3 linked regions of the Homo sapiens genome follow. The protein of the gene in region 1 purifies or fractionates together with the protein of each later gene. This does not show direct contact. Each region holds a gene or a part of one and is shown in the gene's direction. Other genes may lie near its edges.

What was found.
Region 2: the proteins of JADE1 (region 1) and KAT6A purify together in Homo sapiens (affinity purification with mass spectrometry, with the first as the bait; one large-scale study listed by BioGRID). This does not show direct contact.
Region 3: the proteins of JADE1 (region 1) and BLMH purify together in Homo sapiens (affinity purification with mass spectrometry; one large-scale study listed by BioGRID and IntAct). This does not show direct contact.

The regions. Positions count from the first base shown.
Region 1 is NC_000004.12:128,872,142-128,875,795, forward strand, and holds the end of JADE1 (protein Jade-1), read left to right. Parts: coding exon 1-121; 3' UTR 122-3,083; downstream 3,084-3,654.
Region 2 is NC_000008.11:41,940,334-41,943,987, reverse strand, and holds part of KAT6A (histone acetyltransferase KAT6A), read left to right. Parts: intron 1-8; coding exon 9-240; intron 241-987; coding exon 988-1,195; coding exon of another isoform or gene 1,196-1,207; exon of another isoform or gene 1,208-1,939; intron 1,940-2,543; coding exon 2,544-3,146; intron 3,147-3,654. UniProt on the Homo sapiens protein: Histone acetyltransferase that acetylates lysine residues in histone H3 and histone H4 (in vitro). Component of the MOZ/MORF complex which has a histone H3 acetyltransferase activity. May act as a transcriptional coactivator for RUNX1 and RUNX2.
Region 3 is NC_000017.11:30,271,445-30,275,098, reverse strand, and holds part of BLMH (bleomycin hydrolase), read left to right. Parts: intron 1-901; coding exon 902-1,057; intron 1,058-2,199; coding exon 2,200-2,358; intron 2,359-2,470; coding exon 2,471-2,538; intron 2,539-3,654. UniProt on the Homo sapiens protein: The normal physiological role of BLM hydrolase is unknown, but it catalyzes the inactivation of the antitumor drug BLM (a glycopeptide) by hydrolyzing the carboxamide bond of its B-aminoalaninamide moiety thus protecting normal and malignant cells from BLM toxicity.

The DNA.
Region 1 (3,654 bases):
TGTCCCCGATGTGGAAATGAGTGACTCAGAGAGTGAGGCATCAGAAAAGAAATGTATACACACCAGCAGCACTATCAGCAGAAGGACAGACATTATCAGGAGAAGCATCTTGGCTTCTTGATGCAACAGAGATGATGCGGAAGCCCTTTGGGCTCGTCATTGGGTTTGCTAGAGGAGAGCTCTGATGTGGGGGAGAAGCAGAAACCCATTAATCCTGAGCTACACAAACACATTTACTTGCAATTCAGATTAATTTTTTTCCAGAGTCATTTTTAAATCATTTTTGTGAGAAGTTTGTGTTATTTGCAACTTGTTGAGGAAACAGAAGAGTAGATTGTAACCATAAGACACTGCTAAGACTAGAACCCGAACTGAACACTAAAATAAAAATGAAATGTTTTAAAGAAGGCAAGGCTTAAATAAGCCTCATGAATTTTTATAGCCCTCTGCATTCTTCCCAAAGCACAAACTCATGGTTACCTGAATATAGGGAACCAGATATGGTTCTTGAGAAACCCTCATGGTACCATTCACAGCCCATAAAGTTTATTTTCTAGGACTGTGGTAGATCTTGAAATCATATTTATATTTGGCCCTCAAGGCTATTTTTGTTGCATTATAGCATATAGGCAGCAGCTCTGAAGCTTCAGTAACACTAAGAAATTTATGTGTAAATATAGCAGTCAGGGAAGAGAATTTTAAAAAAGGTCATTATTGAAGAAGCTGAGGGGACAGGGTAGAGCTGCTGCAATATGGAGATTTAGGGTAATATGGCAAGGTCCTGCTGCTTGAAGCCTGTGAGTGGGTTGTGGATATGGGACTGGTGGAGAGTGAGACTGTTAGGAAAGTTGTATCTATGAATAAGGGCAGTTGAAGTAGAATTTTTACCAGTCCACTTGACCTTCTTCTTCCCTAACCACTGGCTCTTGAGCCAGCTTGGGATTTCCCTGGCCATTGCCAATACCTGGCCATCTGGCTTCCAATAGTACAGTGGCTACTCAAGTTCAAGCGAAGAACTTCCAGACTCTGGTGACTGTTACTTCCCAGAGCCAACCACTAGTGCATATGTTAGGGAATCTGGGCTTCCAACATGAATGGATTCCTTAAGAAAAAGGAAAAAAAAAAAAAAAAGAAAAAAAGAAAAAAAAAAGAAAAAAGAAAAAAAGAGAAAAAAGCGAAATAGGTTATATTTTAAAAACAATAGAAAGGCAATAAGTTGCGATAAGCTCTTACTATTGACCAAGGTTATACAGGAAAGAGACTGAAGTGTACCCTTGAATAGGTTTTCTGTAGTCAGAGTTCTAAACTCTAATTTGTAACTTGGACTTTCTAATTGCAAATGGCAATAACTATTAAGTTATCAGCAATAATAAATTTAGCATTAAATTTGAGTACAATGTTTTGTTTTTGCACTCCCCATAGTGCGTATGTATTAAGACAGTGGATAGTGTTTAGGTCCTGTTAATTTTCTTTGGAATTCAATGTGGTTGTGAATCAAACTTAAGGAAGGAACGTTTAAATAGCAATGAGATACAGAATTATGGGCCTTTGGAACAAGCCCGACTTCCCCTAAATTCTCCTTAGTTTGTTAATACCAGTATTCAGATTCCTGATTCATTTATACATCTGTTTCCATATGGCAGGGACATTATGATACTTAATGAATAATGCTTTGAGGAGTTCTGCAGTTAACTTTCAAGTCTTCCAGATGATTGTCAACAACAAAAAAGGCTTATTGAATCCCATCTTGCTATGCAAGTTTTATCAGATGATCAAATAGTAGATCTGATACATCCCCATTGTATGTACGACATTTTCAAACCAAGTCTTAACTTTTCAAGGACATTTTAGTAGCTAATTCAGGGGAGGGGGAAGAATGATGCAGGTTTTTAGATTGACTGACTATTTTTGAGTTATGGGGCTCATTTTGAAAGACTGCTGTCCAGATCAGCTTGTTGCTGCAGATAATAGAAGGTTCTTATGAATCCAAGTTGTATATTCACTTGTAGGATAATTTAAAAATTAGATTTTTTTTGCATATGAGCAAAAACCTTTTGCTGGATACAGGAGAAGGTTGGACTTTATCTACAGTTATCTTTTGATTACAGCAACAGCTCTGGGTGAGAGTAGAATTTATAGAGGGATAATTTGTCAAGCCATAGAAAGAAAATCTAAATTAATCTAGTAAGTGTATGACCTCTCACCATTTTAAGAGGTATCAGATTCATTTGCACTATTAGGAATGCTAGTTTTGTGCAAAAATAATGCCTTACCTGTTTTTTCCCCACATTTAGGTTGAAAAGCTTTCAAATGTTCCAAGTTATGCTGAACCAAAAAAAACAAAACAAAAACAAAACAAAAAATATTAAAAAAAACCCACACAAAAACAAAACACACAAAAATAAAAAGCCCACACTTTTTATTCCTGCTTCGAAATGCAAATGGATAGAGCACGGTTTCTCTGACAGTATAATGATAGCTTTGTGAGTTAGTTTCATGTCATGCTGGGAACTCTCTATGAGGTGGCCATAAGCAGCAACCAGCCCAAACACCCACTTGCGTTCTATTAGTATGGAACCATTTGCATTTGTTTTTTTTAAGCTTTATCTTTCCTTGTGCATCCTGACCAAGAAATATCTTTGATTATGATTAATGTATTATGTCAAAATGTAGGCTAGTTAAACTTTTGTAAAGTTGCCTGGAATGTCATTTGTTAGGTTATAAACACAAGATCTAAATGAAGGGTTTTATGTGTTGTGTACAAATCTTATTTTGAAATGGACAAACTTGTCATTACATTTGTAACCTTGTACAGAGGATTTTTCACTATGTGCCTAGCTTGGTGTCCATTCAGCTAAAATTGAAAAAAAAAAAAAGGTGCATGAAGAGTTAAAAATCAAATTAAAGTATATGTAGAGATGACTATTTTATATTACATGACCCAATCCTGTATTTATTTCTACCCCCTTTTTGAAAGTATTTATAAAACTAGTTGAGGACAGCTGTATTTTTTTGTTGAACTATTTAGTAGAATTGTGCCTTTTTGTCTGTATGTGAATAAATGCTGTACATTTTGCAATACATTTTAAGTGTCTTTTGAAATCTGCTTTTGCTAAATATTTAAAGGTATATATGACTTAGCAGTCCTGAATCAGTTGTTTACTGTCTTCCACTTTAAATCAGGAATGAGAACTGTAGAGAACATATCAAATTTGTGCAGAGCACAGATTCACTGGGCTGCTTTCTGGCTCAACTCTGATGGCGAGACTGAAAAATAACGGTTTGAGTTTAGTCTTCCCCACCTGGAGTTCTTTCCAGAATACAGTTTTGGATCTGAAAACAGAATCGTTGAAACAACGTAGACTTCAGGGTCAGAGAGAACTGTATTTAAAGGCTAAACTATAGTTTACCAGGCACATGACATTGGCCAAGTCACTTAACCGTTTTAAGCCTCAGTTTTCCCAGAAAGAGGATAACATCTTAGTAACTTAGATATTGAAGTAGTTGTGATTATTTAAAGCAAGTCCATTGAGCACCTTACAGAGAGCATATATTAGGCATTTAGTAAGTGGTAGGCTATTATTTTTATTAGGAACAAGACACTGATGTTTACAATATTTTAACTAATGAGCTTTCTGAGGTGAAAAAATATTC
Region 2 (3,654 bases), on another chromosome or scaffold:
TTCTTTAGGTTATTTGTTATCAAAGCGTGAAGGCCAAGCAGGGTCTCCAGAGAAACCGTTATCTGATCTGGGTCGTCTTTCCTACATGGCATATTGGAAAAGTGTAATATTGGAGTGCCTTTATCACCAAAATGACAAGCAGATCAGCATTAAGAAGTTAAGCAAGTTGACTGGAATCTGCCCTCAAGACATCACTTCCACACTCCACCACCTACGAATGCTGGACTTCCGTAGTGACCAGTGAGTATCACATCTTTTTGTATACCTTTGAAAGATAATTAGGTTGAAGTTTTTTGGATCAGCCAGTCAGATTATTGATGAAAGGGCATTAACTAATATAAATGATATACTTGGTGATAATGAGATATCATTTTCCTTTCTAGGATATTTTATTTGATTGACTATATATATGGTCTATATATAGTCTATATATATGCTTTTTAAACTGAATTGTTTTTCTGATACCCCTAATTTTTGGACCTAAGCTACTGAATCTTTCATCTTCTAGTATTGGGAGCTCTTTCACAATACAAGAAGTAACCACTCTAGAAACAGTCATTAAATAAAATGCCCATGTTAAATTTTCATATAAATGGCACAAAGTAAATATAGATTGAAAGGAAGAACAGACAGTTCACCCTTCACTAAAGTGGTCAGAAAAAGGTCACAAAGAAAGGAGGCATTTGAGCCAAATAAATGGAGAATAGGAAAGAGAGTGCAGAAGAGCAGCAGAACTTCTGGAGCGGGACGTGTGAGACAGCAGGCAGTGAAAACAGCCCGCGGCCACGGTAGAGAGCGAAGCATTTGTCCTGCTTCACACTCCTGGCCGTCTCATGTGGTGGCACATTTCTGCATTCCATCGTCCCAGGCAGGCTATCTTTGCAGCACCTATCATCTTACATGCTTCACCAGGGGTCTCATCTCCACATTCATTTTTATGTACACCTTGTACATTGTTGATTGCTATAAACTTTTCTCTGGTTCCAGATTTGTGATTATCCGCCGGGAAAAACTTATCCAGGATCACATGGCAAAGCTTCAGCTGAATTTGCGACCTGTAGATGTAGATCCAGAATGTTTGCGCTGGACTCCAGTCATAGTGTCCAACTCTGTGGTCTCAGAGGAGGAAGAAGAGGAGGCTGAGGAAGGAGAAAACGAAGAGCCACAGTGCCAGGAAAGAGAATTAGAGATCAGTGTAAGGGCATGAATAGTCTCTATTTTTGATGACAGAAGATATATTTTTGATTTCATGAGTATTTATAATAATGTATTATGATCATCTTTCACAGAAAAGTAAATTCACATTAGAATGTCAAGAGTTTTATTTCAGTGGTAGAGATTTCAAGAAGACTGGACCTGGTTTACTTAAGTATTTTTAAGCCTTGGACAATTAGGAGGAGACCATCAAATTTCTTATAATGTGTTACTTGTGAGAAAAATATTTGTTACCAGGGTGCCAAGAAGCAGCTCAGTTTTAAGCTGGATAGTAGTTGAGAAATCTGAATTGAATCCAAATCTGACAGTTTTTAAAAATGAAATGGAGGTTGGGTGTGGTGTTTCATGCCTGTAATCTCAGCGCTTTAGGAGGCCCAGGCGGGAGGATTGCTTGAGATTAGGAGTTCAGGACAACCAGGGAAATATAGTGAGACCCCATCTCTACAAAAAAAACCCAACAACAAAATGAAATGGAGATACATTTTCCTTAAATAGAATATTAAGTAACTATTGTAAACTTGTGTATGTTTTCTGATGGGGCACCAAAACATCCTGTGGACACACAGATCTCTTTAGCCGTTAAAGGGTTGCTGGTGAACTGTAGTGCATGTGTCATTGTCAGTATTTTTCTTCATGTGATGCATACTTTTATAGCTCTTTTTTTTAAGCAGTGCTTCATCCTTTCAACACCGGTATCCTCCTTTAATAAACATAAAAAATCCCATGCCTCTCTTTAGTGCAGTTTAATTTTTCAAAATGAAATTATTCAGAATAAAAGTAAATTTAAAAACTACATAAACTTTCTTTCATATTTCTCAAATGCCTCCTTCCTCTTGCCCATGTCTCAAGATCCTGTCTCCTCCACCCTGTTTACAAATTTTTATTTCTGAGAAATTTTATTAAACAATCTCATTTAACATTTAAAAGAACAATAGTATTCACTTTGCTTATTGAGGGTGGTACTGCAGAAAGATTCAGAACATAGGCTCTGGAGTCAGACTGCCAGGCTTTCTATCCCAGCATCTTCTCTTGCTCTTGCGTGACCTGGGGCAGATTACTTAAATTTTTTTCTACCCCACATGCCTCATTTGTAAAGTGGAGTTGTAGTGGTAATACTTCATATGATTGTTGGGGAGATTAAATAAATAATGCATATACAGAATTTAAAGCAGTGCTGAAACAGGAAATATCCATGTTAAATAACTGATCATTTTCTTTTTAAAGCTCAGTTTCCTTTTCTTCTCTCAATACTTAAAAGGTCAGAATAGGTAAATGTAAGCAAACAAGACTGAAAAATTAACCAGCATTGTTTTATTTTCTAAAATCAGGTGGGAAAGTCTGTGTCTCATGAGAACAAAGAACAAGATTCTTATTCAGTAGAAAGTGAAAAGAAACCAGAAGTTATGGCTCCAGTCAGTTCTACACGTTTGAGCAAACAAGTCCTTCCTCATGATAGTCTTCCTGCAAATAGCCAGCCATCTCGGAGGGGCCGCTGGGGGAGGAAGAACAGAAAAACCCAGGAACGTTTTGGTGATAAAGATTCTAAACTGCTCTTGGAAGAGACGTCTTCAGCTCCTCAGGAACAATATGGAGAATGTGGGGAGAAATCAGAAGCCACCCAGGAACAATACACTGAAAGTGAAGAACAGCTGGTGGCTTCTGAGGAGCAGCCAAGCCAGGACGGGAAACCTGACCTTCCCAAGAGAAGACTCAGTGAGGGGGTTGAGCCCTGGCGAGGACAGCTCAAGAAAAGCCCTGAGGCTCTGAAGTGCAGATTAACAGAAGGAAGTGAGAGGCTGCCCCGTCGCTACAGTGAGGGTGACAGGGCTGTCCTCAGGGGCTTCAGTGAGAGCAGCGAGGAGGAGGAGGAGCCGGAAAGCCCTCGGTCAAGCTCGCCACCAATTCTCACAAAGCCCACGCTGAAGCGAAAGGTAACGCATTTCTTTCCAGGTCTTCTCTTCCTCCAATTCCAGTTTATCTTACACCTTCTCGTTTTAGCTTACAGTTCTGAAAGAGTATAAGTTAGAAATTCCTAGTGCATTGCTTTATAAACCTTAAGCCTCTGTATATTGTAGCTCAAGATCTTCCCAGTGAACATTTGAGATGTGTGTGTGTGTTTGACTTCTTTGATTCATGGGAATTCACTTAGAAATCATAAGCTTATTTAAGGGCTTCACCTCCTGGGATGCAAACAAACTTTTTTTTAGCTTACTGGTTTGATGTTCAAATCATGACTTTTAGGGGCTTAAAGCCCTAAAATATCTTTAAAAGATATTTTTAAAGTATGTACAGATTAGAAGTGTTTATATTAGAAAAGGAGGCCAAAATATTACATAATTAATTGGAAAGTGAACATAGTGCTGCCCTATATTTTGGGGTACTCAGAGTACAGTAGCTCATCTTGGGTGCTATTGTTTTCTCTCTACTCTCCCCACTTCT
Region 3 (3,654 bases), on another chromosome or scaffold:
ACCACAGGCACAGGCCACCACGCCTGGCTAGTTTTTGTACTTTTTTTTTTTTTTTTTTTAAACCATGACTCAGCCCTCAGGAGATCCTGAGAACATGTGCCCCTAATTTTTGTATTTTTTGAGATAGGGTCTTGCTCTGTCACCCAGGCTGGAGTGTAGTGGCACGATCATGGCTCACTGAAGCTTCTGCCTCCTGGGCTCAAGCGATCCTCCCTCCTCAGCCTCTTGAGCACCTGGGACTACAGGCATGAGCCACCACGTCCAGCTAATTTTTTTCTTTTTTAAGATGAGGTTTCACTATGTTATCCAGGCTGGTCTTGAACTCCTGGGTTCAAGGGATCCTCCAACCTCAGCTTCCCAAAGTACTGGGATTACAGGCATGAACCACTGCACCTGGCCCTCCTCTTCTAGTAATACTTTTAACAGGCATTGTCATCCAACTCCAGCTGAAAAATTAGTTACTTTCCTATGACTAGAGACCCCTGTTGTAATAAGGAAAACATCAATGTATAAAGGGAAGGAAATCCATTTATAAAATTTGTCATTTTTTGGTTACTTGAAAAATAATCAGAGCAGCAACTCAGATCTTGCTGGGTATCAATGGTAGACAGATTCTTGGCTAAGGAAGTTTAAATTTTCAGGACAAGTACTAAGCACTAAATGTTAACATTTCAGAATCGCATTGTTCACAGTGTTTATTTGAGAACTCATAAGTTGACTGATAACAAATCTCAGACATCGGCTTTCCAGTTTTTGACGCAGTATTAGATTTCTTGTGAAATTTTTAGCTTGAATTTAGCCACTAACTTCTTGTGTTTCCTAAGCTTAAGGAAAATGAAGAGGTGAAAAAAATAACATTTCCCCCTAACCATTGCTCGCCTTTCCTCCTCCTCTCTTCCAGATATTCCGAGTGGTGTGCATCTGTTTGGGTAATCCACCAGAGACATTCACCTGGGAATATCGAGACAAAGATAAAAATTATCAGAAAATTGGCCCCATAACACCCTTGGAGTTTTACAGGGAACATGTCAAGCCACTCTTCAATATGGAAGATAAGGTTGGTGAATGGCACTGGTAGTCACTGGCTGTTTACTTTCAAATGGCTGTTAACCACAGGGAATTGTATAAGATTCTTGGTTAGCATGTATGAGTATCAAACTAGACAGCAAACAAACATTTTTCCCCACTTCCTCTGAAGTATTTTATGCAGCTAATGAAGTTGGTGGTGCCAGGATTTATCAGCTTTTCCACAATGTTCCTCTTCAGAGACTTTTTAAACTGTAAGCCAGCAGTCATTTTAATTCCCACATGCGCCCCTGTATAGGACCAGAATCATTCTCAAGTGCAAAACAATGAAAGTGTGTTGGGTATTTCTTATCGTGGATTCAGAGCACTTTTGCACTGAGGTCCCCTCGGGGAACTCTCCTGTTGAAGGGAGTAATCTTAGTTTTTCCTGTTCCCTTTAGGTCTTCCTCATCTGCCTAGTAGGAGGATCAGAGCCTCTTCCTTTTATTGGCTTCTTGATCCTCTTCCAAGCAGATGCCTGTCTTGTAACTTGAGAACAGGGGCCTTGTGATTAGCTCTCCAATTTTTCTTACTCAGTGCATGTTATTTTTCAGAATGAGTTTTGAGGGCCGGGTGCGGTGGCTCATGCCTGTAATCCCAGCACACTGGGAGGCTGTGGTGAGTGGATCACCTGAGTTCGGGAGTTCGAGACCAGCCTGGCCAACATGGTGAAACTCCGTCTCTACTAAAAATACAAAAATTAGCCAGGCATGGTGGCGCACATCTGTAATCCCAGCTACTTGGGAGGCTGAAGCAGGAGAATCACTTGAACCTGGGAGGCGGAGGTTGCAGTGAGCCGAGATGGCGCCATTGCACTCCAGCCTGGGCGACAGAGTGAGATTCTGTCTCAAAAAAAAAAAAAAAAAAATTGCTTTTGGAGCAGTTCTTGCTAGTAGGAAAAACAGGTAGATGCACCTCCTAATTGTGTCTCTTACGCGAATTAGAATAAGCAAGGACCTCTCTCACATGTATTTTGCCACCTTGTGTTTCTTTGTTACTTAACAATGTGGCTGTAGTACTTAGCTTGTAGGCAGAGATGATGAGCTTGATGGAAACATGAACCTAGAGGAGAGCTGTGTGTTGCTTGACATTCCTGGTTTTGTGCCCTAATTAATGTGTTCTTGATCTTGATAGATTTGTTTAGTGAATGACCCTAGGCCCCAGCACAAGTACAACAAACTTTACACAGTGGAATACTTAAGCAATATGGTTGGAGGGAGAAAAACTCTATACAACAACCAGCCCATTGACTTCCTGAAAAAGATGGTTGCTGCCTCCATCAAAGATGGAGAGGTTGGTATTGTTTCTGTATTTTGCACATTGGGGTTAAAACATCTTTTACTTCTTTGGTATAATAGGAAGATGGGGTTTATGTTGACTTTCTTCCTCTTTCTTCTGTTTCTAGGCTGTGTGGTTTGGCTGTGATGTTGGAAAACACTTCAATAGCAAGCTGGGCCTCAGTGACATGAATCTGTGAGTGCAGGAAATTTAAAATGGAAAGTCATTTGTGGGTTGTTGCTGTTGGAGTGTGCTGTTGGTACAAAATGACTCTGCCGAGGTTCATCCAAAGATGAAGGTTGACCTAAGGGCGCGTCTCTTTCTTTGCATCCTTTAGAGTTTGAGGACTCATAGCAGAAACTCCACATACTTAAACACTCTAACCCAGGACATCAAAATCCCACTTTCTATCTGAGTGGAAATCGTTGGGCGTTCCTAAAAAGCCATCCTCTATGAGAAAGACACTTTAAAAAAATAATTGACTATTGCGGAAATGTGTTCAGTGCATTTGGGAGTGTAATGAAAGATTTTCCAGAGCCCCCGTTTGCTATGTTACTTTGGTAACTTTGTATTTTGTCATTGTGACAAGTGGGACTAATTTGCATGCATACTTTATAGCATTCCTCCTGGTCATTTATGACAATGAAGGTTAATTTGTAAACTAAATCATATAGGATTCCTTGACTGTTCACCATTCTCTATTTTAGGGTTACTTATAAATAGTTGTTACTTGTAGGAAGTTGAGTAAATATCTTGATAGAGAAATCTGCTAAAAAAAAGAATTAATGAGGTTTAAAAAATTTTTGAAAACAGGTACATGCAACTCCCAAGTGTGTCTCTCACACTAACTAGAACATGCAAGGACCTCTCTCACATGTATTTTGCCTTTTGTTTCTTTGTATTTAACAATGTGAGTGTAGTGCTTATGCAAAAATATTCCCCAATATTTTGGACATTATTTATTTAAATTTTAATCAGCAGTGATTTAAATGAATTCAGAAACTGGTTGGTTCCACCAGCTCAAAAGAGATCAGTTTTCTAAGAAGTTACTTCAAACGCTTTTTTCATTATTTTTTAAAGTTTTCTTGCCTAAATGACAATGTAAACTTGTCAGCTTCTGATGTGGAGAATTTATGTTTAATCATCTCCTTTTTTTCCTGCATACTCTTGTGACACATAGAGAATGGACTCCCACTGAGAGACTAAGTTCTGCATGTTCCATATTCTTTCTGAAGAGCTACAGCTAGAGCCTTATTTATTTGGAGCTGTTGAGCCCCTTCAGTTTCTTCTGAATTCCTTTTACAACCAAAA